Regions from separate parts of the Homo sapiens genome. Here region 2 is linked to region 1. The links come from fine-mapping of genetic effects on gene expression. A gene starts in region 1. The other region holds a variant in brackets. All regions are shown on one strand. Distances are from middle to middle.

What was found. PIP is the estimated chance that this variant, and not a neighbour inherited with it, causes the effect.
Region 2: its variant is fine-mapped to the expression of GINS4 in hippocampus (GTEx, PIP above 0.99).

The regions. Positions count from the first base shown.
Region 1 is chr8:41,522,863-41,538,927 of GRCh38, reverse strand. GINS4 (GINS complex subunit 4) reads right to left here and starts at 9,667. Exons shown (of 8, transcript NM_032336.3): 1 at 9,532-9,667; 2 at 8,630-8,744; 3 at 2,482-2,568; 4 at 1,635-1,748. The coding sequence starts at 8,725. GPAT4-AS1 (GPAT4 and GINS4 antisense RNA 1) reads left to right here. Exons shown (of 3, transcript NR_125824.1): 2 at 1,618-1,857; 3 at 4,518-4,623. RefSeq lists a silencer at 9,692-10,121.
Region 2 is chr8:40,748,649-40,764,713 of GRCh38, reverse strand. All of the region lies in intron 3 of ZMAT4 (zinc finger matrin-type 4), which reads left to right. Among named protein-coding and RNA genes, the nearest start is that of ZMAT4, 140 kb to the left of the region's middle. The variant C/T (reference allele first, on the strand shown) is at 7,234.

The sequences.
Region 1 (16,065 bases):
GTCAGGAGTTCGAGATCAGCCTGGCCAACATGGTGAAACCCTGTCTCTTCTAAAAATCAGCTGGGCCTGGTGGCAGGGGCATGTAATCCCAGCTACTTGGAAGGCTGAGGCAACAGAATCACGTCAACCTGGGGGGCGAAGGTTGCAGTGAGCTGAGATCGCGCCACTGCACTCCAGCCTGAGCAACAGAGTGAGACTCTGTCAAAAAAAACAAAAAAACACAACCAAACAAATAAAAAAAGGGGGTTGATGACATAAAGTATTAAGAGACAGCTAATACATTAGGTGACAAGATCAGCATCCAGAGACAAGGGAAATGGCCCAATTTAATAAGATAAAGCTTAAGAGAGATAAGTATCAAGCCCTACACTTAAGGAGCCAAAACCTAAGCCATACAAGTAGAGGACAGTGACTGGATGGGGTAATTATCATCTTAAAAGGGGTTAGTGTCCACGTGAGTGAAGAATGAGCTCAGGCAGCGTACCTGTCAATATGCTAATGTGATAAATATGCTAATGTGATGTGGTTGGCATTACTACCAGCTTAATAACCAGAATAAGAGAAATGATCATTCTGTTTTTCACAAACTTGGTCAAACTACAACTGGGATACTGTGTTTAGTTTAAGATAGTGTAACTTAAGAAGGATAGAGACAAACAAGAACCCTTTTAGAGAAGAGACCAGGAGAGTAAATGGTTTGAATGGCTAAAATGTATGCCTGAGAGAAGACTTCGAGGAGACTGTGGGCAGTCTTCAGATAGCTGAAGCATTCTCATGTAGAAGAGATAATTTATCTTATTTGTAATAACTAAAGAGACACATAGAACCAAATGAAATGTCAAGGAAGTAAGAATTTCTCAGAGTTATAAACTAGGAATGTTTTGCAATTTCTTTTTTTTTTTTTTTTGAGGCGGAGTCTCGCTCTGTTGCCCAGGCTGGAGTGCAGTGGTACAATCTTGGCTCACTGAAACCTCCACCTCCTGGGTTCAAGCAATTCTCCTGTCTCAGCCTCCTGAGTAGCTGGGACTACAGGCGCCTGCCGCCACGCCTGGCTAATTTTTTTATTTTTAGTAGAAATGGGGTTTCACCTTGTTGGTCAGGCTGGTCTCAAACTCCTGACCTCAGGTGATCCACCCGCCTAGCCTCCCAAAGTGCTGGGATTACAGGTGTGAGCCACCACGCCTGGCCTGCAACTTCATTTTTGTAAGTTAGATAGCCACAAAGCTGTAGGTGAATGTAAGTCATCCTGGTTCATTTGACACTGACGTTGGCCATCTGACAGACAAAATAATTTTGGAAACAAGTTCTCCTCTAGTCAGCATTCACTATTGACCAATGCCAACAACTCTCCCTTTAGCACTGCCATGCTGTAACGCAAGGGGGAACCACTCACTCGGCAGGTGAACAGACTAAAAATGTGTGCGGTGTCCCCGCAGTGGGCCACACACGTTCCTCTGTGCTTCTGTGGAGCAATCTCTCGCTCTCCTTACAGTTTAGCTACATGGATATTGGGCTCTTAGCAGCATCTTCAGGTCCTGGACCCTCCTGGGCCCCAGCCCAAGTTTTCCCCAGGACATTCAGTCTGCATTACAGACTGTGCTGTCTCAATCCCTCCAGGTATCTCCACGTCAAACCTTCATGAGGCGACACCGCAAGTAGCTGCTGAGGACGTAGCGGATCCTCTCCATCTCCATTTGGTGGATGCTGACCTTCAGGTCCTCCCTTTTGGCTCTCCTGAGATTTTCTTCCTATTAAATGAGAAATTAAGGTTTATAAAAAACATGATGTTCAACCATCATCACCGGCAACGTTGAGGACCCAGACTATGTTTCAGTCCAAGGAAAACAAAAATATCATGTGAGTTTTCATTTTATCATTGTATAAAGTACAAACAATAGTCATTTACTTTTAGAAAATGACCATTTGAATAGAATCTGTTCAGCCAGAGGCTTCCAAAAGAACTCCAATCTGATTGTAAGGGAGATAGTACAGCACACAGACGAAACTTCCATTGGGTCTAAAAAGCAGTATTAAAACACCAGCTGAGAAACTGAAATATCCACATTTTACAGCTTCTCTGAAGTTGACAATGATTTATGCTCAGATCATCTAGGCCAGGGACCACAAACTCAAATGTTTGCAGGGGCCAGGTGGGGAGGCTACAAGAGAAGGGTGGGTAGTCAGGGGCTGTGGGGAGCAGGGAGTACATGGATGGACAGCTCTCATGGGACTGCTCTGGTCAACTGTTCTCATGCAGAAATGCAGGATTTTAGACTTTTCATGGGAAGCCAATATCCAGATATTTACAGGCACTCTCAAGATTGATAAACATAGATAACTAATTCAATGTTGTTTTAAAGAACTGGACTGTGAGTGGAGCCAAACAAAACAGATTTGCTACCAGACCACAAGCTCTCAGTGTGCTGACCAAATGCTTTTACCTTTCTCCTCCTTTGTCAACCCAAGACAAGCGACTCTTACCATGTGCTCCAGCTGTTCCATGACACATTCTACAATCTCAGGCTTGCTCTCCAGCAGCTCAGGGGCAAACTTTTCATTCATCCAGGCCTAAAAGACAAATGCCAGAAAAAGCAAGCATCACCCACCACAGAGCTAAACAACCCAGTGAGTCAGCCCAAGTCCAACGAAAACCAGGGATGGCGCAGGCAAGAAAACTGTCTGCCCACCAACTGGAAACATTGAAGGTGTTTTGAAGACAAACTACGTTTAGCGATTGCTTTCTCGTGTCTTGTTTTAGTTGGGAGGCTGTGTTCACAACCTTCTATTCAACTGACACTCATACAAACCCTTGCTTACTTCAGTTAGTGTGACGCTTGGTGCTGAGAGTGACACCACCTGGTGTTCAAATAGTGCCTTTGCCAGGCAGCCCGGGCACACTGTTCCCCCAGGCAGCGCCACCCCATGTCTATTTAGAGAGAAAGCAATAACCCACCAATCCACACAGCTCTTCATTCCTGAAGCTCAGAGCACTTCACAAATATTTTTCATTCATCATCATCATATCTCAGAGAAAATGGATATAGTTATCCTCATCTGATTGAAAAAATACAGATTGAGTAATTTACTAATGGCCCCAAAGTATACAGGATCATAATAGAAACAGGCGCTCATCTATTATGGAGTTTTGGAGCCAGAGGTTAAAGCTCTAATTTATGACTCAGGCCCAGCTGTTTGGTTCATTTTAGAGACTTCCAAGGCTTAGAGAACTGAAATATCCCTAAGTGACTGAGGAAAGCTACACTTATCTTTCAATTACAGGAAATGTAGTTTTAGCATAGCTCAGAATTATATGCTGACCAGGCTCAACTTATTTTTTTCTGACGTCCTTGAGTGTCTGCTTCTCCCCATGATCACCGTCAAGACACATTACCAAATGCTGGGTATGGCTACAGTCATAGGCATTTGTGCAGAGCCTGAGCATCTGTAACAGTCCTGCAGACTGAAACAAACAAACAAAAAAAACCTGCATAATGCATGGGAAAACATCATATTTTCTGGAGGGCTTATTAGGAGCAGCATTTCTTTTTGATTGATTTTTATTAAATATTGAATAATTTTTATTTATTTTTGAGGCACAGTCTCACTCTGTTGCCCAGGCTGGAAAGCAGAGGCATGATCCCAGCTCACTGCAGCCTCTGCCTCTCGGGTTCAAGTGATTCTCCTGCCTCAGCCTTCCGAGTAGCTGGAATTACAGGCATGTGCCACTATGCCCAGCTAATTTTTGTATTTTTATTAGAGACAGGGTTTCACCGTATTCGTCAGGCTGGTCTTGAACTCCTGACCTCAAGTGATCCACCTGCCTTGGCCTCTCAAAGTGCTGGGGTTAGAGGCGTGAGCCACCGAGCCCAGCCAAATACTGAATAATTTTTAAAACTACAAGAACAAGCCGGGTGCAGTGGCTCACGCCTGTAATCCCAGCACTTTGGGAGGCCGAGGCAGGCGGATCACGAGGTCAGGAGATCAAACCATCCTGGCTAACATGGTGAAACTCCGTCTCCACTAAAAATACAAAAAATTAGCCGGGCGTGGCACGCCTGTAGTCCCAGCTACTTGGGAGGCTGAGGCAGAACTGCTTGAACCTGGGAGGCAGAGGTTGCAGTGAGCCAAGATTGCACCACTGCCCTCCAGCCAGGGCAACAGAGCAAGACTCCATCTCAAAAAAAAAAAAGACCCTGTGTGTCCCTCCCTCCTCAGAGGTAATCATTAGCTTGAATTTCATGTTGAATTTTCTTTATGGTCTCACTACATTTGTTCATATCTCTGTAGAACACCTCTCAACCTGTTCATGACAGGATATTCAAAGAAAATGATAGTGCTTGTCTGGTACACTGGGGTAGTATTGGGGACCACTTCATTTACATTATGAAATTATGACAATAAAGTATAAAACATTAGGTGGAAGTTTATATTAGTATAAAACTTTCATATAAATCTTTCCAAAATTTTTACTGAGAAACTTGTATCTAAATCCAATCTTTTTTTTTTTTTTAACTCAGGTTTTATGCTTGAAATGGCTACATCTGGTTTCTGGTCACACAGTGGCATGATAATGGCTCACTGCATTCTTGACCTCCAAGGCTTAAGTGATCCTCCTGCCTCAGCCTCCAGAGTAGCTGGGACTAAAGGTACATACCACAAAGCCTGGCTAATTTTTAAATTTTTTTTAATAAAGATGGGGTTTTACCATGTTGCCTACAGTGGTCTTCGAAATCCTGGCCTCATGACATCCCCCTGCATTAGCCTCCAGAAGTGTTGGGATTACAGGCTTGAACCACTGTGCCTGGCCCCTGATCAAAATTCTAAATGCCAATCTGTTCATTATTGCTACGGGCTGAAGTGTGTCCGCCCCTCAAAAATCTACCTAACTTCCAGGACCTCAGACCGTGACTGTATTTGGAGATGGAGGTCTTTAAAGAAGTGATTAAGTTAAAATGAGGTCATTAGGATGGCCCCTAATCCAGTAAGACTGGTGCCCTGATAAGGGGTAATTTTAACACAGACACACACGAGAGGGAAGACCATGCAAGGACACAGGGAGAATATGGTCACCTACAAACCCAAGACAGAGGACTCGGAAGAAGACAACTATGCTGGCACTTTGACCTCAGCCTCTAGAATTAAGAAAATAAATTTCTATTTAAGCCACCCAGTCTTTGGGACTTCGCTCTGTGGCCCTAGCAAACTAAAACAATCACTAAAATGAGCAAATCTGCACTACAGGTAACAACTTTTAAATCACTTTTTACAGGCATTAAAGGGTATCCTATATATGCTCCTGGAGCTGTTCTCATCAGCAGCCCTGTCAGGCTGTCCCTTTGGCTGTGCCACACAGCATAAGAGACAGGATCTGGCTGTGGCAGCCGTGCAGGTGGCGGGTCACTTCCTTGGCTGCACTCAGGGCACTGCACTAGAGCATCAGGCATGAGATGTTACTGCAGCTTACCCACCAGCAAGCTGCAGCTGTGCTGTCAGAACCCCCGCCGCCCCATCCTCTAGCTGCCTTTCAAGGACCCCGATGATGCTCACTTGAAAAAGTAACCAGCCTGGGGCTCCAGCTGTCCTGGAAGGTGCAGGGGTCCACACAGAGGCATCTGTGGCATAGCAGTGTGCCACATCACCCAAGGGTGGCGGCTCTGCCTTGAACAATAATTTTGCAAGTTTGAACTTTACATAAAGTGTTTCTTTGGCAGCTCATATTTTATGGTTGTTATTGTTCTACATTAAGTTCCTGTTATTCATGCTGTTTCAGGAGTTATTTTACTCATTTTCACTGCTGTTTTATTCCCACTGTGTATGGTATATTTTCTCAATGCTATTTGTTTACGGTTGTCTAGGTTATTTTAATTTTTAACTATTGCAAGCAATGTGTGAACATACTGTGGATGTCTCCTAGAGTACATGCGGAAGTTTTCACTAGGTATGTACCTGGGGGTGGAACTACTGGGCCGCAGGTATGTGCACCTTCATCTTTACTAGACAATAACAAATTATTTTCCAAAGCGATTATACCTATTTATATCCCACGGCAGTATATAAGTGTGCAAATTGCTCTTCATTTTTTTTTTTTTTTTTTTGAGATGGAGTCTTGCTCTGTTGCCCAGGCTGGAGTGCAGTGGCATGATCTCGGCTCTCTGCAATCTCCACCTCCTGGGTTCAAGAGATTCTCCTGCCTCAACCTCCTGAGTAGCTGGGATTACAGGCATGCCAACAAGCCTGGCTAATTTTTGTATTTTTGGTAGAGACGGGGTTTCGCCATGTTGGCCAGGATGGTCTTGAACTCCTGACTTCAGGTGATCCGCCCCTCTCGGTCTCCCAAAGTGCTGGGATTACAGGTGTGAGCCACCGCACCCGGCCTGCCCTATATTCTTAATTTTCTCTTTTTGGGATAAGATCTCGCTATGATCCTCAGGATGGTCTCAAACTCCTGGGTTCAAATGAACCTCCCACTTGGGCTTCCTGAGTTGCTAGAACTACAGGCATGAGCCACTGCGCTCAGCTGCTCTACATTCTTGCCATACTTTATATTGCTCACGTTTTTCAGTTCTTCCAATCTGATAGATATGAGATGATATCTCATGATTTTCATTTTCCTGATTACTAAAAAGGTTGAACATCTTTTTCATATGCTTATTGGTCATCCTGTTTTCTTCTTCTCTGAGGTATCAGTCTGTACTGGGCAGTATGAAAGAGCTGTTTATGTACTGTGGATAATCATCTTGTGTCAGCTACATATTAGTATTTTGCAAATATCTTCTCCCAGCCTGGTGGCCTGTCTTTTCACTCTAATCCAGAAGTACAAACAGGCTGGGCACAGAGGCTCATGCCTGTAATCCCAGCACTTTGGGAGGCTAAGGCAGGCAGATCACAAGGTCAGGAGTTCAAGACCAGCCTGGCCAACACAGCGAAACCCAATATGGTGAAACCCCATCTCTACTAAAAATACAAAAAGTAGCCAGGCGTGGTGGTGCACACCTGTAGGCCCAGCTACTCAGGAGGCTGATGCAGGAGAATCGCTTGAACCTGGGAGGTGGAGGCTGCAAGTGAACCAAGATCACACCACTGCACTCCAGGAATGTATCCCTTTTTTCCTTTATGCTATGTGCCTTTTGATTTTTGTTTAATGAACCCTTTCCTAACGAACCAGGAATTCTTAATGCTGTTCCACAAACTAGGTCTGTGGGTGGATTTCAGGGGATCTCTGATCCCCTGGAAGTCATATGCAAAATTCTGCATGGGTGCATGTGTGCGTTATTGTGGGATGAAAGACCACAGTTTCTACCAGTTTCTCAAAAAGGTCTGTGATATAAAAACAGATTAAGAATCACTGCTAAATAGTAAGGATTATCATGTAAGGTATAATTTAAAAATCATTTTAGTTCCGTTTTGTCATTCGTGATATCATGTATGGCAGGGAAGAATGAAGAATACTAAAGTAGCAAACATGAGAGAGCTCTGGAAAGGGGCAGTTAGAGCAAGAGGATAAGGATACTTACTATGAACAGCTCACATCTAGTGAGTGCTTATCATGTGTCAGATAGCATGCTGAGTGCTTTACACAATTACCACATTTAATCAAAAACTCCAGGACATAGACACTATTATCATCTCAATTTTATTTTATTATTTTTTTGAGACGGAGTTTCACTCTTGTTGCCCAGGCTGGAGTGCAATGGTGGGTAGGATCTTGGCTCACCACAACCTCTGCCTCCCAGGTTCAGGTGATCCTCCGGCCTTAGCCTCCCGAGTAGCTGGGATTACAGGCATGCGCCACCACATCCGGCTAATTTTTGTTTTTTAGTAGAGACGGGATTTTACCATGTTGGTAAGGCTGGTCTCGAACTCCTGGACCTCAGGTGATCCGCCCACCTCAGCCTCCCAAAGTGCTGGCATTACAGGCTTGAGCCACCGTGCCCGGCCCTATTGTCTCAATTTTATAGGCAAGCAACGGCTTGAGACAAACTCCCTAACTTGCTCAAGATCACATAACAGAGGAGTGTCACAGACAGATTTAAATCCAGATAGTCTGAACTCCTGTTACCAGAGCATCATGAGATATAAGTGTAAAGAACACAGTTACTGGCACATGGGAAATATGCAGTAAGTCATAGCTATTACAACTTAAAGGAGAAATATTTCAGAAAGGATTTTAGATAAGCAGTGGACATATGGAGAGCAGACGACTCAAGAAAAAACATGTGAGAAAAAGGAAAAATATGACCAGTTTTCCCTTACAGGCATTTCAGCATTTTCTTGCTAAACAGGCATTCTCCAGGGAAACAGCAGATGTTCAAGGGACTAAGGTAAAGAAGTTCAGGGACCTCTACAGTCCCTGAAAATATCACGTGGATCCTTGCTCTGTGAACTGTTCACTGAATGTGCCCAAAGCTGTCCCTTACTGACCCCACTTGGGGATGCTGTGTTTGATATGATGAGGTCTCTAACAGAGGATGTCCTTCTTGCTTCCCGTTTCCATGTAGATGGTAAGATCCAGTCCCTGTTCTAAAGTAAGCCCCAAATTCCGTTTCCTCATCTTGTGATCCCTGATATTCACAGTTGAACTAAATAAAAAGGCTGACTGGAGCAAAGGGATTCGATCTGGGATGCTTACCTGCTCCAATCTTTCAATGAGCTCTGCAGGAGTTAGGACCACTTCCTCACTACCCCCATCAGAGTCCTGTCCCAGGAAATCCACTTCTTCGGTCATCTTCTCTGAAACCAGGAACCTAATGAGAGGGAAAGAACCAATACTCTGCAATGCGTTTTCTAATTATCTGCAAGAACAGACATCTATCTGGAGAAAGGAAAGGTTTATTGAGGTTTCCTGGGGTTGTAGAGGCCCTTTAGCAAGTGGTGAGAGAACGCAGGGACTCTAGTTTTCCAGTGTCTGCCTCTTCCTCCAAGGCTTAGGTCAGGTATCCGTTTCTCAAACAAGCCTCCCCCTTACTTCTGTCCACCAAGAGCTGAGCACCCATCACACCATACAATCACTATTCATTTCTTTGACTTCCCAGTAGAGGTCTTGTTCCTCAGGGACGGGGTTCGTTTTAGTTCAAATACGAATCGCGCCTCTGCTCAGTGCCTGGCACTAAGCACTGGGGACGCAATGACGTGGGAAGCCCCTGCGCTCAGCACAGCGCTTGACTCCTAGCAAGCACTTAACATTATTAGGAGCTGGCCGGGCTCACGCCTGTAATCCCAGCACTTTGGGAAGCCGAGGCAGGAAGATACCTTGAGCCCAGGAGTTCGAGACCAGCCTGGGCAACATAGGGAGATCCTGTCTCTATAAAAACAAAAATTGTTAGGAAGATTAATCAATGCTAATTTCCCAGAGCCACAAGGGCCGGCGACATTAGACCAGTCGGCGATCCCAAAGGCCTAAGGAGGTGGATGGCGGGGACAAAGAAAGTCCCTGGGGTCGCAAGGAAACTGCGAACATCCCCCTCCCCTCCTCCCTCTCAGTGCCACCCACACAGGCCTGCCCTAGCCACAGAGGTCCCATTCGACGCTCACTCGGGGACCTGGGAGACAGCGAGGCACTCCACAGCAGCCGGCGGTAAGGACGGGGCGTTCGTGGGGACGCAGTCGGGGCACCAGGAAGCGGGAAGACAGAGGAACAAACTGCTCAAGGACTTGCCGGGACCAACTCAACCCTGCAACTTCTCAGCTCCCGCGCTACTCTCGCAAAGTTTCCGCCCAGGCACGACGTCATCGCGCAAGGGCGACGCTGACCAATCAAGGCCCGGGGGGAAGAGCGGGGCGGTCTCCTTGGGCCCGCCCACCCGGCGGGCGGGGACTGTCTTCGCGGCGGCCTGCAGTCCCAGCAACCCAAGGACTTGAGGCGGCGGGAGGCTGGTCCGGGTTGGCCCCGCCCACCTGGGGGCCGGCCGCTCCGCTGTGCGGTCCGGGTTGCACTACCCAAGAGCGTCGGGAGGGGGCGCCCGCCACCGCGGCCAAGGGGAGCGGCGGTGTCCGCCCCGGGGGGTCCCACCCAGAAGTATGCTGTTGAAAGCAGGCCGCTGCAGCCTCCTGGGCCGTCTCCACCCACAGCTCTCGTGGCTCTTTGGGTTCCTCCGTCTTTGCGGGGTTTCACCTGTGGTCAGTGTGGTCATTGCCTTCAGAATCTCCAGTATATTCCTTTTCATCTTTCTTGAGACAGGGTCTCGTTCTGGTGCCCAGGCTGGAGTGCAGTGGCACCACCACAGCTCACTGCAACCTCCGCCTCCCGGGCTCCAGCGATCCTCCCACCTCAGCCTCCGGAGTAGCTGGGACCACAGGCCAGCGCCACCACGCCCAGTTATTTTTTAATTAAAAAAAAAAAAAAAAAGAACTGTGGCGGGGTTGGGGGTGGGGAGGTTCTCCCTATGATGGCCAGGCTGGTCTCGAACTCAAGGATCCAAGCAATCCTCCCACCTCGGCCTCACAAAGTGGGTACTGGTTCTTGAAGCCTGGGATCGGACGACCAGCAGAAGCATCGCCTGGGAATCCGTGAAAATGCAGGTTCTCAGGCCCCACCCTGGCCCACCGAATCAGAAACTGGGGGTATTTCACCAGACCCAGGCCCTCCCGGTGACCCTGACACAGCTGAGGTTTGAGAATCACTGCTTTGGGGCCGGGCGCGGTGGCTCACGCCTGTAATCCCAGCACTTTGGGAGGCCGAGGTGGGCGGATCACGAGGTCAGGAGATCGAGACCATCCTGGCTAACATGGTGAAACCCCGTCTCTACTAAAAATACAAAAAAATTAGCCGGGCGTGGTGGCGGGCGCCTGTAGTCCCAGCTACTCGGGAGGCTGAGGCGGGAGAATGGCGTGAACCCGGGAGGCGGAGCCTGCAGTGAGCCAAGATGGCGTCACTGCACTCCAGCCTGGGAGACAGAGCCAGACTCCATCTCAAAAAAAAGAAAAAAAAAGAAAAAAGAAAAGAGAATCACTGCTTTGGGGCAATGCTTTCAACTCACCTTCTGGAGGGGAAAAGCACAAAAACCCATGTCTGTATATGTATATATTTTTTCCATCTTTGTGTGATCCAGTTTTTCTTCTCTGAGTTGCTGATTCTTTTCTCTTTGCTGTCCTTTGTTTTCTGTGCAAAGCGTTGCTTCTGGCTTCCCTAAAAGTATCTCTTCTCCATCAATCTGAGGGCTCTTTGCAAAGCTGCCCTATGATGTCATATTGATTGACTAGTAAAATGATTGGCTAATATAGTATGATCGTACCTGCCTGATTACAATCCTGTTATGAAAATGACAATAGAATAAGCCGAGTGAGAGAGTAGGCATCTTTACAAAGCGCTGTGTAAGCTGGGGCATATCAGCACGGGATTCCCAAAAGGAAGGGACATTTGAGCTGTGTCTTATGAAATGAATTTTGTGAGTGGCAAATAGGTGGTTATTTCAAGGTCTGTTTCAACGGTTTGGTAATCCAGTGGTTTTTGGTTGTGGCAGAGTGTGTTTCCCAAACATAGCTGCTCTAATATGGATCTCACCCCACATACCCTTCTTACCATGTGACATTGACACTCCTCCATCAAGAGGTGGGGTCTATGTTCTCACCTTCTATTTATTTATTTAGAGACAGGGCCTCACTCTGTCGCGCAGCCTGGAGTGCAGTGGGGCGGTCACGGCTCATTGCACCCTTGACCTTCCTGGGCTCAGGTGATCCTCCCACTTCAGCCCCCATGAGTAGCTGGGACTACAGGTGTGTACCATGCCTGGCTAATTTTTTGTATTTTTGGTAGAGGTGGGGTTTCATCATGTTGCTCAGGCTGGTCTTGAACTCGGGCTCAAGTGATCTGCTCACCTCAGCCTCCCAAAGTGCTGGGATTACAGGTGTGAGCCACAGCGCCTGGCCCTGTTCTTGCCTTTTACATCAGGAAAGAGTTTTTTAACTGCTTTGACCAAGAGAATTTGGCAGAAGTGATGCTGCTTGGCTTCTGGGACTAAGTCATAAAAGGCAATGTGGCTTCCACTTGGCTCTTTTTTCTGGAGCCCCATCTCTTGAGAGCTGTGGGCTGACGTGGAAGAAGTCTGGCTAGCCTGCAGTCGATGTGCAAGAGAGTCGATATGAAGATGCCAGGCAGAGATGGGGAGCCTTACTGGAGGAACCCCAGAACCCCAGTTGTTCCATTCTCCAGATGTCTGGGTTGAATGAGCCTTCAGGTGATTCTAGTGCTGAGGCTTCAAACCGTCCCAGCTAAGATGAAGGGAGCAGAGATGAGCTTCTCTGCTGAGCCCTGCCCAAATCGCAGATTTGTGAGCAAAATAAGTATTGTTGTTGTTTTAGGCCCTAAGTTTTGGAGTGGTTTGTTATGTAGCATTAGCTGACTGGAACAGTGGTCTTTGAGCACAATCGCATTCTTCCATAATTCTCATTACCAAATAGCTTTTCAATGATGTTTATTAATATTCCTTAATTGTTACATATTTGAGTCCAAGCATAGATAACGTCTCTACACAAGTGCCGATTATGTAGTTTATTGATTTAAAAACTTCCCTTCTCTGGGTCCAACCACCTTCTCCAATCTCCCCCGCTCCTCCACTGGAGAGCTAGAGCCCAGCTTCTGCTTCCTTACTTAATAGAGGTGTGACCTTAAACGAGTCACTTTGGATTTCAGTTGCACCACCTTTTTTGCTGTTGTTGTTAGATGACGTTTCGCTGTTGTCCCTCAGGCTGAAGTCCAATGGTGCGATCTTGGTGCACTGCAACCTCTGCCTCCTGGGTTCAAGTGCTTCTCCTGCCTCAGCCTCCTGAGTAGCTGGGATTATAGGCATGTGCCACCGCGCTTGGCTAATTTTTGTATTTTTAGTAGAGACGGGGTTTCACCATGTTGGCCAGGCTGATCTTGAACTCTTGACCTCAAGTGATCTGCCCGCCTCGGCCTCCCAAAGTGCTAGGATTACAGGAGGGGGCCACCACACCTGGCCATCAGTCACACCACCTTTTTTTTTTTTTTTTTTTTTTTTTTTTTTTGTGAGATGGAGTCTCACTCTATCACCCAGGCTGAAGTGCAATGGTGTGATCGCAGCTCACTGCAACCTCTGCCTTCCAGGTTCAAACGATTCTCCCACCTCAGCCTCCCGAGTAGCTGGGACTACAGGTGCACGCCATCGCGCCTGGCTAATTTTTGTATTTTAGTAGAGATGGGGTTTTGCTATGGTTGCCAGGCTAGTCTCGAACTCCTGACCTCAAGTGATCCACCTGTCTCAGCCTCCCAAATTGCTGGGATTACAGGAGTGATCCAACCGCGCCTGGCTAATCACACCACCTTTTACACAAAATTAATATGTGTCTGCCTGAAGACAGAGGGACAGACCAAAAAATTGAGGGACCCGTTTCACTTCTAAGATCTTTGATTACAACTAATATTCATTAGACAAAAACACTTTTAGAGGAAATGAGTTGGCAGAAAAATATTTCTGCTGTGTAAAGAAGGGTTATTAAAAGAAATGCCAAAGCAACACACAAACTTTTGGTGTTGATCGTTTGGCACTGTAAAGTTCAGGAAGGTGGGAGAAAAGAGGTCTTCAATTACATTATATAGAATGAAGAGAAAAATCAGGAACACCTGGTTGATGTGCACCCACTGTCAAGAAGTGTTTTAGAAATAATAAGATAGCCATATAAATGGAATGCAATTCATTAAAATGATCACAGATAAAAGGTGATTACATAGATTATTATATTAGGAGGATGAAGTTTGTGGATAGAATTTGCAGGCAAGCTTAGATGATTTAAATTGCAAGATGAACATACTAACATGAATTCAGACAAGTAAAACATGAAGTTACCTCGAAAGAGAAGGAAAAAGCTACTGCCCAAAGTGGAAGAGGAAGATACAGAAAATAGGATCCTATACAACTGAAGAAAGTGACAAGCCACAGCAATATTCAGATATTCTCAGTGAAGATGTTAATGGAAATTATAGACACAGCAAATAGAAACAGCCAAAATATTTGTGGACAGCCATACGTTATTATTATTATTACTATTTTTTGAGACAGAGTCTCACTCTGTCGCCCAGGCTAGAGTACAGTGGCGTGATCTCGGTTCACTGCCAGCTCCGCCTCCTGGGTTTACGTCATTCTCCTGCCTCAGCCTCCCGAGTAGCTGGGACTACAGGCGCCTGCCACCACGCCCGATAATTTTTTGTATTTTTAGTAGAGACGGGGTTTCACCATGTTAGCCAGGATGGTCTGGATCTCCTGACCTTGTGATCCGCTCGCCTCGGCCTCCCAAAGTGCTGGGATTACAGGCGTGAGCCACTGCACCTGGCCCAGTGGTACATTATTTTTATTTTTTGAGACAGAGTCTCGCTCTGTTGCCCAGGCTGGAGTGCAGTGGCATGATCTTGGTTCACTGCAACCTCTGCCTCCCAGGTTCAAGCGATTCTCTTGCCTTGGCCTCCAGAGTAGCTGAGATTACAGGCATGTGCCTCCATGCCCGGCTAATTTTTGTGTTTTTAGTAGAGATGGGGTTTCCCCATGTTGGACAGGCTGGTCTTGAACTCCTGACCTCAGGTGATCCGCCCACCTCAGTCTTCCAAAGTGCTAGGATTATAGGCATTGCACCTGGCCAAAAAGATACATTATTAATGAGAACAAATTTAATGTTTTAATCACCAAGGAAAAACAACAGTAAATACTGTATATCTATACAGAATTGTGAGCTTTCTGGAGAAAGATGCTTTCAGAATACAAGTAATGGCATTATTATTGTTCTCATATCAGTGCCCTTGCTTGTTTGGTCAGCAGCTGTTTCTCAGGGGTCCCTTTTTCTGAATTCCATCACAATCTTGGTCTCACTGCCCTGGAAACCAAAGAATTAAGATTTGGGAGTGTTTTAGTTAAGTTGAGTTTAACTCCCGGTTTTTCTGAATGCATGAAGATTGGCACTACAGACAGCCATGTAAGAGGACAGCTTGCATTTTTTTTTTTTTTTGAGACGGAGTCTTGCTCTGTTGCCAGGCTGGAGTGCAGTGGCATGATCTCGGCTCACTGCAATCTCCGCCTCCTGGGTTCAAGCGATTCTCGTGCCTCAGCCTCCCGAGTAGCTGGGGCTACAGGGGTGTGCCACCATGCCTGGCTAATTTTTGTATTTTTAGTAGAGACAGGGTTTCACCATGTTGGCCAGGATGGTCTCGATCTCCTGACATGATGATCCACCCGCCTTGGGCTCCCAAAGAGCTTTAAGGAAGGCAGAAAAGTGTGCTTACGCTGTTTTCTCTTAGGCTCATAAGGAAAGCTATTGGCTGGTGAACTTATACGTATTTTTCTGGCCAATGATAACACCCAATGCCAGCTGCATGGCCAGGATGCTGGAGAACTCAGGAAGCCGGGCAAGGCTTGGGTCTCCCTTACAAATGGAAAATCTGGGCAATTTATGATATTCCTAATTCCTTTGCTCTCCTCAGACCCTAGGTCCTCTGAAACTCTGTAAGGAGATATAAGAACTATCTGCCCCTTTGCTTGTTGTAGAATATACAATAATCATAAAAAATTTTTAAAAATTAAATATATCTTATGAAACACTGTGGCCAACATAGCATGTAGCTGGTTGAGTAAGATTATTTTCCTAATGCTTTTCTGAATATGTCAAGCAAAGAGAAAGGTGACCTTTCCATAAAGAAATTCATGTGCCTTTATATCATGGGCATCTTTGATGAGAAGCTTATGTGCCCAAGTGTTGGGCAAGTCTTATTTATTTATTTATTTATTTGTGATGGAGCCTCACTCTGTTGCCCATGTTGGACTGCAGTGGCATGATCTCGGCTCACTGCAACCTCTGTCGCCCGGGTTCAAGTGATTCTCCTGCCTCAGCCTCCTGAGTAGCTGGGATTACAGGTGCCTGCCACTGCGCCCCGCTAACTTGTATATTTTTAGTAGAGACGGGGTTTCTTGGTCAGGCTGGACTTGAACTCCTGACCTTGTGATCCACCTGCCTCAGCCTCCTAAAGTGCTGGGATTACAGGCATGAGCCACTGTGCCCAGCCTAAGGCTTCATATTTATTAAAGTCTATATAGTTTAGCTGAGAGATCTTGAGGGACTTGTCCT
Region 2 (16,065 bases), 770 kb after region 1:
CACGCTGTATTCTCAGAAGGATATAATAACACTTTATTCTACTCACCTCACTTCCTACTCAGATTCTGTGCTCCCAGGGGCTGTGAGAGGTTTGCATCCCAGTGTTAACTGATTGAGAAGAGCATTCACATCTGCCCTGAATACCCCCAGCGTATGGCTTTGTAAACAGAGAAAATGTGTTCCTGATTTCCCACACCCTGACCATGTATGAACCCTGCTCCCACCCCATTCATAGGAACTCGAAATTTACTTACAAACGCAGTGAAGGGCCTATTATACTTCTAAGGTCTATTGTTGCCATTTCTACTTCAGGCCATTTGGCTTTTGCTGTTGTTGTTTTAAACACCCAAATTCATTTCTATCTTCTGTTTTGACATTGTCAGCTGTTTAAATTTTCTCTTCACATGCTTTTATCTTTAGAATCCTTACTCGGATCTTACATTTTTTTTCCCCCTGGAAGACATTTTTCCCTTGGGGCCACAGAGTAAAATTAAGTGAGAAATAAATTGTTATGGTCAATTGCCTTAGAGAAATTTTCAGTAATCCCTCCAGCGTTAGAGACAGAAAGGACTTCAGTGTTCACGCAGTCCATTGAGAGTCTCCGTTTTTCACCCTTTTATTATCTTCAGACCCGTGGGTCAGATGCTTTGGGAAAAAATGATCTGTATGGGAAACAGCATTTTTAAGTAAAAAAGGTGATTTAGTTTTACCTGGGTTTTTTTTTTGTGTGTGTGATACTTTGATTTTTGCAAAATGTAAGTAACTGCTGACCAAAATCGCAAGTCAGTTTTAAGTAAACAGTATTTTTATGTGGGGTTAAGATAATTCCCTCTAAACATAGAGAAGCTTGGCATTTGGTTAGTGTCATCAGTGTTACTACTCTTAATATACATGCTTTCCTTCAGATCTGAAATATTCTGCATAGCTTGAGAAGCTGAGTGTCACTTTTACAAGTCCCTAAACATCCTAGAGTCTAGATGGGGAAGAATCAATCTAATCTAAACCCTTCTTATTACAAAGGTGAAAATAAAGAAGTACCATGACTTGACCAAAGTGGTCAGACCTGAGATTAAAATCCTGCTTCCCTAAATGCTATTCCTAGTCTTTTCCCACATATCTTGAAGTGGTGTCTTATTTTTTGGCCTTGTAACTGTTATGGGGTCTGGAGCCAGGGAGCATTGTTGTTCTGGGCAGGGTAAAAATAGTGGCTGGCTTTTATCATGCACTTTCCACACGTGTTCTAAATGCTTTATATATATGAGTGATCTTTCATCTTCACAAGCCCTGGAGAAGGCAGGAGTTGTCACTGTCCCCACTTAGCAGAGAAGCAAACAGAGAGATTAAGTAATTGACTGTGATCACCCAGCTAGTACTTGACAGAGACATGGCTGGAAAAGTAGAAAACAAAAGGAGATCTACTCTGATACTGTAAACTAGCTCCACAACATCCCATCGTAAGACGATAACGAGCATCTGCAAAGCGCTGGGGGACATGGACACCTTCCCCAACACAGATCAGGATCTAGTGGGGAAGTCAGATGTGTAGACCCTGTATCTCAATGCAGCATGATAAGTGCTACCATAGACATATGCCTGGGCATGGTGAAGGGTCCCTGGCCTCTCCTGATACGATGGGGCTAGATAAGTTTTCCTGGGGAAAGTGACACTGAACCACTTCTTAAAGGATAGATTTGGGTGAGCTAAATAAAAAAGAGTGGGAAAAGGCCCTTTTGAGTGTGCAGTCAGCATTGGTAATGTCTTCAGGGAAACAAACTCAGAGGCATTTCTTGAGTATGAAGTTCTAGCACTGTTGACTACCTAAGGCTGCTGTAACAAATTGCCACAAACTGGGTGGCTTCAACAAAGAGCATTTATTCTCTGGCAGTTCTGGTGGCTATAAGTGTGAAATTGAGGCATGGGCAGGGCCTTCCTCTGGAAAGTCTGACTGAGAACCTCTTCCTTGCCTATCTCATAGATGCTGGTGGTTGCTGGATTTGAAACTGTACCACAAAAACCTCTGCCTCTTCTATCTTTTCATTTTTGTTTTTTTTATTTTTAGAGATGGGGTCTTGCTCTGTTTCCCAGGCTGGAATGCAGTGGCATGATTATAGCTCATTGCAGCCTCGAACTCCCAGGCTCAAGGGATCCTCCAGACTTAGCCTCCCAAGTAGGTGGGATTGCAGGCATGCACCACCATACCTGGCTAATTTAAAAAAAAAAATTTGTAGAGATGGGATCTTGCTGTTTCCCTGGTTGGTCTTGAACTCCTGGCTTTGAGTGATCCTCCCACCTCAGCTTCTCAAAGTGTTGGTATTACAGGCATGAACCACCACACCTGGCCTTCTTCTCTGTGTGTATCTCTGTGTGTTCTCTCTCCTTCTTATAAGGACACCAATAACTGGATTTATGGCCCAATATAATCCAACATGACATCTTCTTAACTACGTACATGTGCAAGACCCCATTTCCAAATAACATTGCATGTCCTAGGTTGATATGAATTTGGAGGGGGACATTATTCACTTAGTACTATGGCAGAGGCAGGAGTCGAGGTTGGGATGGTGGGACATTGTGCGTAACGTTGACATTTACTTTGTCAAATGTCCCCTTGTCTTCTCAAGTGGTCTGCTGTTGACTTCGTGGTCAGTTCTCAAAGACAGATGCGTTTACCAACAAGTGCTGTGTGTTTGGCTTCCAGCTTAAATAGTACCCAGCACTGAGAGTTAGAAGTGGAGATTCTATCCCCAGTTCTGCTACGCATGAGTTTCACAACTTTGCTTTAGACTTTCTAAAACTCAATTACCATGGTTATAATCAAGCAATATAATTGCTGTCCTGACTGTCTCTCAGAGTTGTTAAGGGACTCAAGATAAAGTCATGTTTGTGAAGGTGCATGATAAATTGTAAAGTGTGTGTCAAGTATTCTGTCGTGGAATTTTTTCTTCTTTCTTGTGGAGTATCTCCTGATCTATGGGCCCTTTCATAATTAATCAATCAGCCAATTTCTACTGAGCTTCTACTATGTACAGAGTACAGAGCCGCATGCTGTAAAGGACACAGAAAAAAATGAAATATGGAGTTCATCAGGTAGTTGGAGAGAAAAGTCATACAGAAAGCAATTTAAAAACAATCAAGGGCTAATTTGTGTGGCCCTGCCTCTAATGAAGTTGATGATCAGAGAAGTGATTTTTTGATGGAAGCTGGAGTGCTTAACAATGGCTTCCCCAAGGCAAAAGCTTTAGAAGGCTCTGGAAGATTTGTACCATGACGGGGCGCCTGTTCTTGGTGGAGCTGCCTGCTGTGCAAAGCCTTAGAGGGAACAATGAGGAAGGCCTGTGGGAGACCTGGTTAGGCAGAGACTTGCAGGGGCCCTTCAAACTGACTTTCATTCAATATTTATTTAGAAAGCCCCTTTGAAAAATTAGCAATACATATGTTGTTTTATATTCAAAATAAGGAATCAAGTCCATAACCCAGTTATAACATTAAAACTTGTTTGGAATTGGATCTCTTGTGGATAGCTATAGTTACACACATTTGGCCAAGATAGAGATTATGTTTGTGGATATAATTATGAAGTACTATATGACATATGTTTAAAATTTCCCTTTATTGCCTTTTGTTATAGCAAATTATCCCCCCCTGCCCCACTGCCCCAGCCCACCCTCACCTTTCTTTCTTCCTTCTTTTCTCTTCTTCAGCTTCCTTTTGTTAATTTCCGAACTAGCAATTTCTTGGGAGGACAATTAAAGGTTTATAATGTAGGTAACACAAATCCTTCATTTTTAGGAAACCACATGCAGTATCGGGTTCAGGATTGTAGCTGACCATAGCTGTCAATTCTACGTTGGCCAAGCCCCAGGTTGGTGATAAAATCTGCTGTAGCTCTGTGCAACTTGCAGGTGCATGGTGCAAAAGCACGAGAGAGAGAGAGAGAGAAAGAGAGAGAGACCGCGACAGAGAGAGAGAGAGCATGACAGAGAGAGAGAGAGAGAGAGAGAGAGAGACTGTGACAGAGAGAGAGAGAGAGAGATCTTTGCGGTCAGAATGTTGCCTCGACCATGAAAAAAGTCAGCTTTGCCAGAAGCAAGAACCATTCAGAGTTAGTGAGTGGAAACTTGGCTTAACAGGAATTTTGTTTTTTCTGACTTCTTTCATTGCAGATTTTGTACTGTTTTTAGTTAGGTGACCCAAGATGCTGCTTAGCTCTCCTACCCCCAATCTGGTTCTGGTGAGGGTGCTGCGAAGCAGGGCTAGAGCCTGGGGTATGTTTGGGGAGGGATGGAGACTGGGTTGGCCAGTAGGAGGGGCTCGGTTCCTGAGGGCAGGTGAAAGATTTGCAGAAGCAAGTGTATGCCAACTTACAGATGTTTCCAAAGGGTCAAATAAAAGAAAAAAATCAGCACTTAGGTAAGGACTGATCATATATGGAAGTCTATTGCAATAGGGGGAATGTCCCAACCACTTGGAGAAGTAAAGCACGGCTAGAAGGAGCTGGGTGTTGGAGAGTCAAGGGAGTAGGTGCTGTGAGTGAGCAACTAAACAGGAACGTTTCTCTGCATATGTAGTCAGTCGATTATAGGGAAAGGCTGTTGGCAGTAGTGGTGTCTTGTCTGCATTCTTGCATAAGCTCTCAGTGCTCGCACAAGCATAAGAGTGGGACAAAGTTCAGGGACCGTGGGAAAGCAGAGAAGACTGACCAAAGTTTGGTCAGGCTGCGTTAGTGGGCATTTTGTCCAGATTTGTTAGTGGGGACAGATAGTTCAGTTAATTATTTATGAGCTGAAGAATGGGAATTGGGAGAGTTTGTGTCTGGCCTTGTCAATAGGTAAATAAGATGATCATCCACACATCTTATCTATGTCTTTTGGGGAAAGGTTGGTCTTTGCAGCAAGCTCTTTCCTGGAACAGAAAAGGATGGGAGATTTAAAAGAAACTATTCCTGTTTTCCAGAAGCAGGAGCTCATGTTTTTCCAGGACTTCAGCTGAAGTTCAACATTGTCATGTGGGTGGGGCGCGACCAAGACAGTCGACCCTTGTTTTAGTTGGCCTGTGCTGCTATAACAAAATCCCATAGCCTAGGTGGCTTAAACGTCAGAAAGGTAATTCTCACAGTTCTGGGGAGTCTGAGATCAAGTTGTCAGCCGATTCAGTTTCTGGCGAGGGTTCTCATCCTGCTTTGCAGATGAACATCTTATGGCAGTTCAGGTGGCATATGGGATAGCAAGAGAGATCACCTCTTTGTGTCTCTTTTTGTGAGGGTACTAATCCCATTCATGAGGGCTCCACTCCCATGAGCTAGTCATCTCTCAAAGGTAATACTATCTTATGACCTTTACATATGATCGCACTGGGGATTAGGTCTTCAATATAGGAATTTAGCAACCATAGATTCTAGACTGGCTTTTCCCTTTTTTTTTTTTTTTTTTTTTGAGATGGAGTCTCTCTCTGTTGCCTAGGCTGGCGTGCAGTGGCCCAGCCTCGGCTCACTGCAACCTCCACCTCCCAGGTTCAAGTGATTCTCCTGCCTCAGCCTCCTGAGTATCTGGGATTACAGGCCCGCACCTCCATGCCCTGCCAATTTTTGTAATTTTAGTAGAGACGGGGTTTGATGATGTTGGTCAGGCTGGTCTCGAACTCCTGACCTCATGATCTGCCCACCTCAGCCTCCAAAGGGCTAGGATTACAGGCGTGATCCACTGCACCTGGCCTAGACTGGCTTTTCTCAGATACCATTCCAAAGGGCTGATGTAATACAATTATGATTGCAATAGCGTTATGCATGTTTCTTTTCTCCAGTAGGTGATTAGAAAGCATTACTGATTCTCTGTTTCATTTTCTTTGAATGTCTAGTGTCCTTTCCGTTGTTCTGTCTTTAACCAGTAGAGACAGTTCTCTCTGTGGCATTAGCAAGTCTGTGTCTCTGCTTTGCTGCACGCTTATGCTAGGGAGCACTGTCACCATCCAACTCTGAAGGGTCAAAATCCTATTTATTCCCAAGATCCATTTTTCTTTGCTTCCTTCTAGAGACCACCAGGTATTCAGCTTTTCTTCTTCTTTCTATTTAGTATTTTTTTCATAATAAGTAATTTTTTTGTGTGCTGTTCACACAAATGGAAAAGACCACAGACAGAATTTTAAATTAGACATTGTCATTTACAGAAAATCTATATTCAGGGAAGGAATGGTTAAGGGTCCTTAATAACTAAAATCTGGTGATGACCGTGCCATAGTTCTTTAATACGTCAACACAGGAATTGTTGCTCTGTTTATTTTTTGAAAGGGATAATGATAACATACATTTGAAAAGAGTCATGGTGACTAATGAAAAAACCTTACAGATTGTCATTTCACTGAGTCTACCAACTTTCTCTTACGACTGATGTGGAGTGGTGACTGTGGAGGGACTGGCTTCATGACAAGAAGAGAAAGGGAATACAATGAAGTCTTCCTGCCATTTCTGTCCTTCAGTTGTTCAGAGGAGTATTAGGGTTCTCTAGAGGGACAGAACTAATAGGATAGATGTATATATAAACAGGAGCTTATTAAGGAATATTGACTCACACGATCACAAGGTGAGATCCAACAATAGGCCGCCTGCAAGCTGAGGAAAAAAGAAGCCAGTCCAAGTCCCGAGACCTCAAAAGTAGAGAAGCCAACAGTGCAGCCTTCAGTCTGTGGTCGAAGGTCCAGGAGTCCCAAAGCTGAAGAACTTGGAGTCTGATGTTCTAGGGCAGGAAGGATCCAGCATGGGAGAAAGACTAGGCTGGGAGACTCAGCCAGTCTAGTCTTCTCATTTTCTTTTGTCTGCTTTTATTCTGGCCACACTGGCAGCCTTGATTAGATGGTGCCCACCCAGACTGAGGGTGGGTCTGCCTCTCCCAGTCCACTGACTCAAATGTTAACCTCCTTTGGCAACACCTCACAGACACACCCAGGAACAATACTTTGCATCCTTCAATCCAATCAAGTTGACACCCAATATTAACCATCGCAAGAGGTAATTCATTGCCCTTCCAAGGATATTTGATGGATACATAAATAAAGATATTATTTTCCTATATTTTACATAAAGTATGGTACAGTATATGTACCATTTTACCTTTTCTTTTTTCTTTTTTTTTTTTTGAGATGGGGTCTTGCTCTGTTGCCCAGCCTGGAGTGCAGTGGCACAATCTTGGCTTACTGCAACCTCCGCCCTCCAGGTTCCAGTGATTCTCCTGCCTCAGCCTC[C/T]CAAGTAGTTGGGACTACAGGCACGTGCCATCATGCCCGGCTAATTTTTTGTATTTTTACACATCTTGGAGGTCATTTGACATGAGGTAAAGGGTGTTTGTGTGCATGCGTGTGTGTATGTGTGTACAGTGGATGCTCATTATTTGTGGATTCCATATGAGCAGATTCGCCTACTCATTGAACTTTACTTGTAACCTCCCATCAGTACTGGCACACATTTGTAGTCATTCACAGCCATGGGCAGGGTAGTGAAAAGTTTGAGTCACCCAAAGTGCATGTTTCCAGCTGAGGTCAAACCAAGTAAGACTCTGCCTTCCTGCTTCGGCTTCCATACTATGAACAAGTGTCCTTCTCACGGTCTGTTTGGAGCCATGCTTGTTACCTTTCTGTGCTTTTTGTTGTCGATTTCACTGTTTAAAATGGCCTCCAAACGCAACACTGAAGTGCTGCCCTGCGTTCCAAAACACGAGAGGGCTGTAAGGTGCCTCAGGGAGAAAAGACATGCATTAAATAAGCTTCCTTCAGGCTGAGTGACAGTGCTGAGTGACAGTGCTTCAGGCTGAGTGACATTGCTTCACGGCTAATGCTGGCCGTGAGCTCAGTGCTAACAGATCACCAATGTATATCAAATAATGTGTCTTTTAACAGAAACGTACGTAAAATGAGGTTACATATTGATCAGTTGAAAATGTTATAGACAGAGGCTCACAGGAAGCTAATCTTGTATTTAAGAGCAATGGTTCAGTATTTGCTAATTCAGTGTTCATAGCAACTTTATAGAACAGAACTACCACAAATAATAAGAATCCAGTACACACACACACACACACACACACACACACACACACACACACACTTACAAACATAAACCCGAACAGATGCTGAGTATTTCATTGTAAAGATATCCCATAATTTATGTAGTCCCCTACTTACGGATATTTGGGTTTTTCCTATCACTTGCTATTACAAAGAATGCCATGATGAATAAATGTGTGTATCTCTTTTTCAGGTATACAAGTGTGTATATATATATATATATATATATATATATATAAAAGAACATTTCCTAGACATGAAATTGCTGGGTGAAAACATGTGTGCATTTATAATTTTGATAAGTGTTGCTGTGTTTCTCCATGGAAGCTGTATTCGTCTACACTGCCCGGGGCTGCCAGCACCTACAGTCTCCTGGAGCACCTTTCTCCACAAGCCTGGTGGCAGAATGGAACACAGACTTTGGACTTTTCTTTGTGTTTTTTAAGACAAATACACAGAACTTGATGTTTGAGAGTCTGCTCTGTATGCCAGAGGCATGAGAATAACTTTAAGCATCCAGATGCTTTTTATCTTCCCCCACTCAAAGTACCCCTGGTGGGAGGAGAGTGAAGCAATAATGTTTAAGGTCCCAAGGAGAGGATCAATGTGTATGGGTTCCCTTCATTTGGGTCTCTTCAGGGTAATTTGCAACTTCTATAGTCCAGTTAGGACAGGCCTGCTGTTCCCACCTGGAAGACCTGAAGGGCAATTAGAAAATCAATAGATGCGATTTAGTATTTATGTGCCACACTGGCTCAAGTCAGAAGTCAGAAAATAACCACTGGCCAAATTCAGCCACTGCCTGTTTTTGTGTGGTCTGTAAGCTAGGAATTATTTTAAAAATTTTTAATGTTTGAAAAAAATCAAAAGAAGAAGGGTATATCATGGCTCATAAAAATTACATGAAATTCAGGCTGGGTGCAGTGGTTCGCACCCTTAATCCCAGCATTTTGGGAGGCCAAGGCGGGCAGATTGCTTGAGTCCAGGTGTTTGAGACCAGAGTGGACAACATGGAGAAACCCTGTCTCTACAAAAAATACAAAAATTAGCCGGGCATGGTGGTGCATGCCTGTAGTCCCAGCTTCCCGGGAGGCTGAGGTGGGAGAATTGCTTGAACCCGGGAGGCGGAGGTTGCAGTGAGCCGAGATCGGGCCATTGCACTCCAGCCTGGGTGACAGAGTGGGACCCTGTCTCAAAAAAAATTACAGGAAATTCAAATATTAATATTCATAAATAGAAAATCTTATTGGAACACAGCCACACACATCCCTTTACATGTTATCCACAGCTGCTTTCATGCCACAAGGGGAGAATTGAGTAGTTGCAACAGGGATGGTATATCCCAGAAGGCCTAAGATATTTACTGTGACCCTTTACAGAAGATGTTTGCTGCCCATTGAAACTCTAAAGGTGCCTTTCTTCTCTTCCTTATCAGACTTTCAGTTTGTGGCTGTTAGAGTTTCACCTAAGAGAGAAGCATCATTTCAAACCCCCGAGTTTCCATTTGCATTGTTGCTATTTGGCTTTGTTTCTTTTCAGAGAAAAGTTTGAAATTTGTGAACATATGATGTGGAAACAATGAGGACAGCTTATTTCTGTTTCTTTCTTCTTTTCTTTTCTCTCTCTTTCCTTCTTTTCTTTCTTTTCCTTCTTTCAAGATAGGGTCACTCTCTGTTGCTCAGGCTGGATGGAATGCAATAGCATAATCATAGCTCATGATCTCAAGTGATCCTCCCACCTGAGTCTCCAAATTACGCAGACCACAGGCATGCATCACGGCAACCAGCTAATTTTTAAATTTTTAAAAATTTTTTAGTTGATACAAGGTCTCACTATGTTGCCCAGGCTGGTCTCGAACCTCTGGCCTCAAACGATTCTTCCCGTCTTGGCCTCTCAAAGTGCTAGGATTACAGGCAACAGTCAGCCCACCTGGTCGTTTTATGCCATCTGTCCTCCAAGCCAAATTATGGTAACCCAAATTCCTGAGTCTTCTAGGACAGCCCAGATTTAATATGTTCTTTCTTGTCAATACAAATCACCTCACCAAACTATACCCCCAGGTGGAATAAAAATTTTTTGTTATACAGGTACAAATACACAAATAATAATTTAAATGAAAAAAAATAGTAGAACTCGTCATTGGTGGAAACATATGGCATATTGCTTCAGCTACACATGATTTTCTCGGCCTGAGACCAATTCTCTAGCTTGGGACTCTGCTTCTGAAACTCATTTATACTGAGATATATATCATAGTTATAACTTATGCCTAGAATCTGATACAGAGGAGAGGAAAGAAGGATTCATTGGAAAGACAGCTGTGGAAATAATTGTTTTCCCTGGTGGAGATAGTGCCATGGGTCTTTGATCATTGGAAAGCCTGGTAGCCCCCTCCTGTACTCTAACTCCACTGTTTTATTGTTAACATATCATTGCATATACTCTCTTGTTTGTTTGCATGCCATTTGTTAAACCTTTTTTCTTTTTTTTTTTTGAGATGGAGTCTTGCTCTGTTGCCAGGCTGGAGTGCAGTGGCGTGATCTCGGCGCACTGCAGCCTCTGCCTCCCGGGTTCAATCAATTCTCCTTCCTCAGCCTCCCGAGTAGCTGAGACTACAGGCGTGTGCCACCATGCCCAGCTAATTTTTGTATTTTTAGTAGAGATGGAGTTTCACCATGTTGGCCAGGATGGTCTCTATCTCTGCCCACCTCGGTCTCCCAAAACACTGGGATTACAAGCGTGAGCCACTGTGCCCAGCCTAAACCTATTTAATGTGTCAGGCCCTATGCTAAATACTTGATAGAAATTTCATGTGAACTTTATAAATATGAGTAAGAATCTTTGTCACCTCTGGTGAAAAACATGTGGAAGGAGCTTAAGTCAAGAATCTTATCCAAAGTTACACACCTTGTAGGTGATACAGCCAAGATTCAAACTCAATACTGTTTGGCTCTAGAACCTGAGGTCTGTATTATCCTGTGATCTTCAATCATTTATTTTTTCATTCAGAAAATATTAATTGCTTGCCTACCAAGAGTCAGGCAGTGTGCTGATTGCTGGGAATTTAACAGTGAATGAAACAGATGCAGTTTCTGTTTACAGAACTTACAAGGATAGTGGTGGGGGGGAATGGATGTTAATTTTTAAAAATCGTACAAATATTTAAATAAAGAAACATAGTGGAAAGCTTAGAATAAAGAACTCCACAAGGTCTTTGGAATCAGAGAAGGGCTTTCCTGAATACGTGATGCTTGAGCTGTGTCTGGAAGTTGATTAGTGATTAACTAAGCACAGAGATATATGTTTTGCAGTGATGGTGGGGAAGAGTGTGGTGTGATAATTCCAGGTAGAGTAAGTAGGATGTGCAAAGGCCCTAAGGTCTGAGAGAACATGGTCTTTGGAAGGAGTAAGAAGGAAGTCATAAAAAAGAATGAGTTCATGTTCTTTGCAGGGAAATGGATGAAGCTGGAAACCATCATTCTCAGCAAACTAACACAGGAACAGAAAAACAAACACTGCATGTTCTCACTCGTAATTGGGAGTTGAACAATGAGAACACATGGACACAGGGAGGGGAAAGTCACACACCACACACCGGGGCCTGTTGGGGGGTGGGGGGCAAGGGGAGGGAGAGCATTAGGACAAATACCTAATGCATACAGGGCTTAAAACCTAGATGACGGGTTGATAGGTGCAGCAAACCACTATGGCACATTTATACCTATGTAACAAACCTGCACGTTCTGCATATGTATCCCAGAACTTAAAGTAAAATTAAAAAAAAAGAAGAAGACAGCCAGCATGAGCACGGCTGGTGTCTGGAGACAGAAGCAGGTAGTGATGGGAGATGCAGAGTGGACTCAGGTAAGAAGAGCTGAGGGGAGCTGTCGAGTGTCAGCCTTGCAAGAGTCCACTGAATCAGTGTGGCTGATGGCAGAAGTGAAAAATGAGACATTGATAGATTTGGAGGATACCTGAGTAGGTAAAAATAGATGAATGGGATAATTAGTGTAAGACCAAAGGAGGTTTCCAAATGACTTCCAGGCTGAGAATTGGAACGTTGCTGTCCCGTCCCGCGGTCACAGGGATGCTGATCTTTAAGTCCATGACTGCAGAGAGTGGGAGGACCTGAGAAGCAGGGAGGATGTGAGGAAAAACCCTTTCTCCAGGTTATTCCAGGTTCTTCACGTGGAGCAGGAGTGAAGTTGCATGAAGATGCAGTTTGCTTCCAGCCAAGGGGGTAGTGGGCAGCCTGGTAGAAGGGACTGGGCAAACTCTTGTTCTCAGAGCTTCCTTTAAGCCAAGACTTTCTCCTTCTCTGATGACAAGAGGAGTAGGGGGAAGGAGGAGAAGTCAGGGCAAGCCCAGTGGCAGAGGGACACAGGGACACAGGCTAGAGGCACCCTGCAATTGTGCTGATGCCCAAAGCCAGGAGAGGGGGCTGGGTTCCAGATAGGTGCCAAGTGAGAGGGCACCCTGGTGTCACAAAGTAGGGCAGCAGAAGGTTGTCTGGATGGCTTCCTGGGGGAATGAGGAAGTCAGCAGTGATCTGATATGTGCTTCCAGTAGGAGGACTGGGGTTACTTAAACAGCTGGTAGAACTCAGGTGTGGTCTTGGGATCTCAGTCTCAGTAACTCCTGGAGGGTCCACCCTGTTCTTCCTTAAATTTAAAAGGCAGAGATGGGAAGACCCAGAGATCACAGCGTTAGACTTTAGGAGGACAGGGGTCTTCCCTTATACATCTTTGCATCCTCAGCATTTTGCACAGGGGGGGTTGATGTTCATATTTTCATAATACTGCCCTATTCTTTTTCTTTGAAACAATTATAATTTTAAAAATTATTTTAATTAAAACCTGTCATTTGTATAGAAAGTCTTACAGAGCAACAGAATTGCATCTGGTTTTCATTATACACCTATCGAAGTCATCCTCTTCTTCTGTAACCGCCCTCTTACTGGCTGTCTCTCTTGGTCATCGCTGCCCTAAGCTTGACCTTATTTCACATCAGGCCCGTTAGTTCAGGGGTTGATGTTATAGTTTGGTTATTTGCCCCACCCAGATCTCAGGTTGAAATGTAATTCCCAGTGTCGGAAGTGGGACCTGGTGGGAGGCGATCGGATCATGGGGATGGATTTCTTGTGGGTGGTTTAGAATGGTTTATCTAATTCATGGTTTATCATGAGGACTGCACCATCCCCTTGGTGCAGTCCTCATGAGAGTGAGTGAGTTCTTATGATATCTGATTGTTAAGTGTGTGGCACCTACTCCCCACATCTCTTGCTCCCACTCCTGCCATGTGAGACACCTACTTCCCCTTCTGCCATGATTGGAAGCTTCCCGAGGCCTCACCAGAAGCAGATGCTGGCACCATGCTTCCTGTAAAGCCTGTAGAACCGTGAGCCAGTTAAATCTGTTTTCTTATAAATTACCCAGTCTCAGGTATTTATTTATAGCAATGCAAGAGTGGCTTAATAAAGTTGATTTGCAGCTAGCAGAGGTCAATGTCCTTCCCAGATTCAATCCATATTTCAGCCATAAGAGAGAAGGAGTGTGTTCCTCAGGAAGTTCTTATCTGGAAGACATTATGGCTGTGCCTCAGGGGTGAAAGGATTGATCATACATATTGCATGACCCTTTGTCATGGAAGATTATACACCACATCCTTTAGCAGTGTCTTTCCTTTGACACACTAAATGGGCCCTTGAAAATGAGCCCAAATCTATTTTTGTTTAGGGTAGTTTGAATAAAAGAATTCTGGTGGCAACAGACTGCAAAAGAGAGTGATTATTTTATATCACAATCGCTCTCTAACTTCAGTTCTGCAAGGTTAATTTCCAATGCTGGTGTTTGTTTTTGGGGGGCCCCACTGGGGTGGCCAGGAATCTCCAGACATGGTCTGATGGCCCACCTGGGTGTGGCAGCTGGGTTCTTCAGTATTCTCTTTCCTTTCTGCTCTGTTTCTTTTTTTCAGGTGTCTGATTCTCCAGTATATCTTTCCTGACCCCATTTTTCCCCTGATAGATGGATTTCTTTGGTTAACATGCTAGAGTCCCACAAAACATAAGTTTATTTTTCTCATGAATCTCAACTCTTTCCTGAAAATTTGTATCATTCGCTTTTAATAAAATTCCTTTCCTTCTATGTCTGGGTCCATTTGTCTTCATCTCTTGCTGGGATACAGGGAGGGATCTGGGAGGATCTCGCCTCTTTGCCTTCCTTTGTCCTACATAGCACCGTGAGTCTTCACTCTCATATGGCTCTCATAAATCACGCTTGCTGTCTTCCTATTAGGTGACCCCCTGTGACCATTCTGCTTCTCTTTAGTAACCTCTGGGCATTCCCCATGCCTAAAATATTATTCTTGCAGAACGAAGAAGTCTGTTTCCTTCACTACATTCTGGCTTGTGACTGTTTGGCTTTGTTTAGGTTCATGTATTAAGAATATATATATATATTTTTTCTTTTTGCCTTAGAATCAGCCAAGGGTTGTGACATTAAAATACAAGATACATTTATAACTTCATGTGACCTGGATTTGGTGCAGGTCATGCTGAGACAATGATGAATGTCTCCTGATCAACACCAGAAAACCTTGCAGAAAATACATTTAAAAATAGGAGTGATGTACTGAGTTCTACTAATTTGCAGTAAATTGTCTTTTTGGACTTACGTCTGGCAAACCCCTACTGTGCACCTGCCCTGTGTCACAGGCTGCATTGGGAAATCTGCATATATTATCTTACATAATTTTCAGAAAATTCTATCATGTAAGCATTGCTGTGTGCATTTTGCAAATGATCTAAGGAAGGGGCAGAGGGCAGTGGAAGTAGAGATAAGATCAAAAGTGAGGTCACCTAAATCTAGCACCTTTTTTATCTTGTCACCTCCCTGTGGCCGCCTTTGATGCATTGCATTTCTTTATTTTTAAGAACATAACTTTCACTCACTCCTGCCTCAACCATTTCATGCATAAGTGACCTTAGTAGTCCCAGGTTCCTGTAGAACATTTTTTGTGAGAGTAGCTCAAGGAATTCTTCCCCTCAAAGCCTGCAGTGGGTGGAACAGTGTTCACAGGGTCATCCTAACTTTGTTCTTTTTTCCCAGGTGCCTGCTGAGAGTTGGTGGCTTGCAGACTTGTTGAAAATCTGAGGGGTCAGATAATGTGATGCCACTAATTCAGCATCATGTAAAAGAGAGGTCATAGGCTTTGAAAACTCCCCTGGGGTCAAGTTGGGCCTCCAGTTCCTGCTAGCTGAATGACCTCAGTCAATTTCCTTAATTTTTATTAGGTTTAGTTTCTTCATCTAAAAATTTTAAAGAATAAATATGATAATCTAAGCTTAAAGCAAGGAGTACAGGATGTGGTGAGAGACAGGTGCTCATTAACTATTACCTCCTTCTCCTTTCCAGTGGACCAGATGATCCTGAACCTCTTTCTGATTGGATATTTGATAGTGTATTAGTCTGTTCTCATGCTGCTAATAAAGACATACCCAAGACTGGGTAATTTATAAAGGGAAGAGGTTTAATGGACTCACAGTTCTATATGGCTGGGGAGGCCTCACAATCATGGTAGAAGATGAAGGGCACGTCTTACATGGTGGCAGACAAGAGACAGTGAGAATCAAGTGAAAGGGGTTACCCCTTATAAAAGCATCAGATCTCATGAGACTTATGCGCTTCCACAAGAACAGCACTGGGGAAACAGCCTCCATAATTATTATCTCCCACTGGGTCCCTCCCACAATGCATGGGAATTGTGGGAGCCACAGTTCAAGTTGAGATTTAGATGGGGACACAACCAAACCATATCTGATAGGGAGTAAGAGAAATCAACAAAAAAAGACTGATTAGAATGAGCTAGTGGGTCTGTATTCCAAGATCAAGTTCTGCTTAGAGATGCATTTCTTAAAAAAAAATAAAAGCCCTAAGTAATTGTCAATGAATTAGAAAAACAGAGAGAAAATATTACTGTGTTCAATACCATTCTTGTTTTAAAGAAGCTAAACGAATA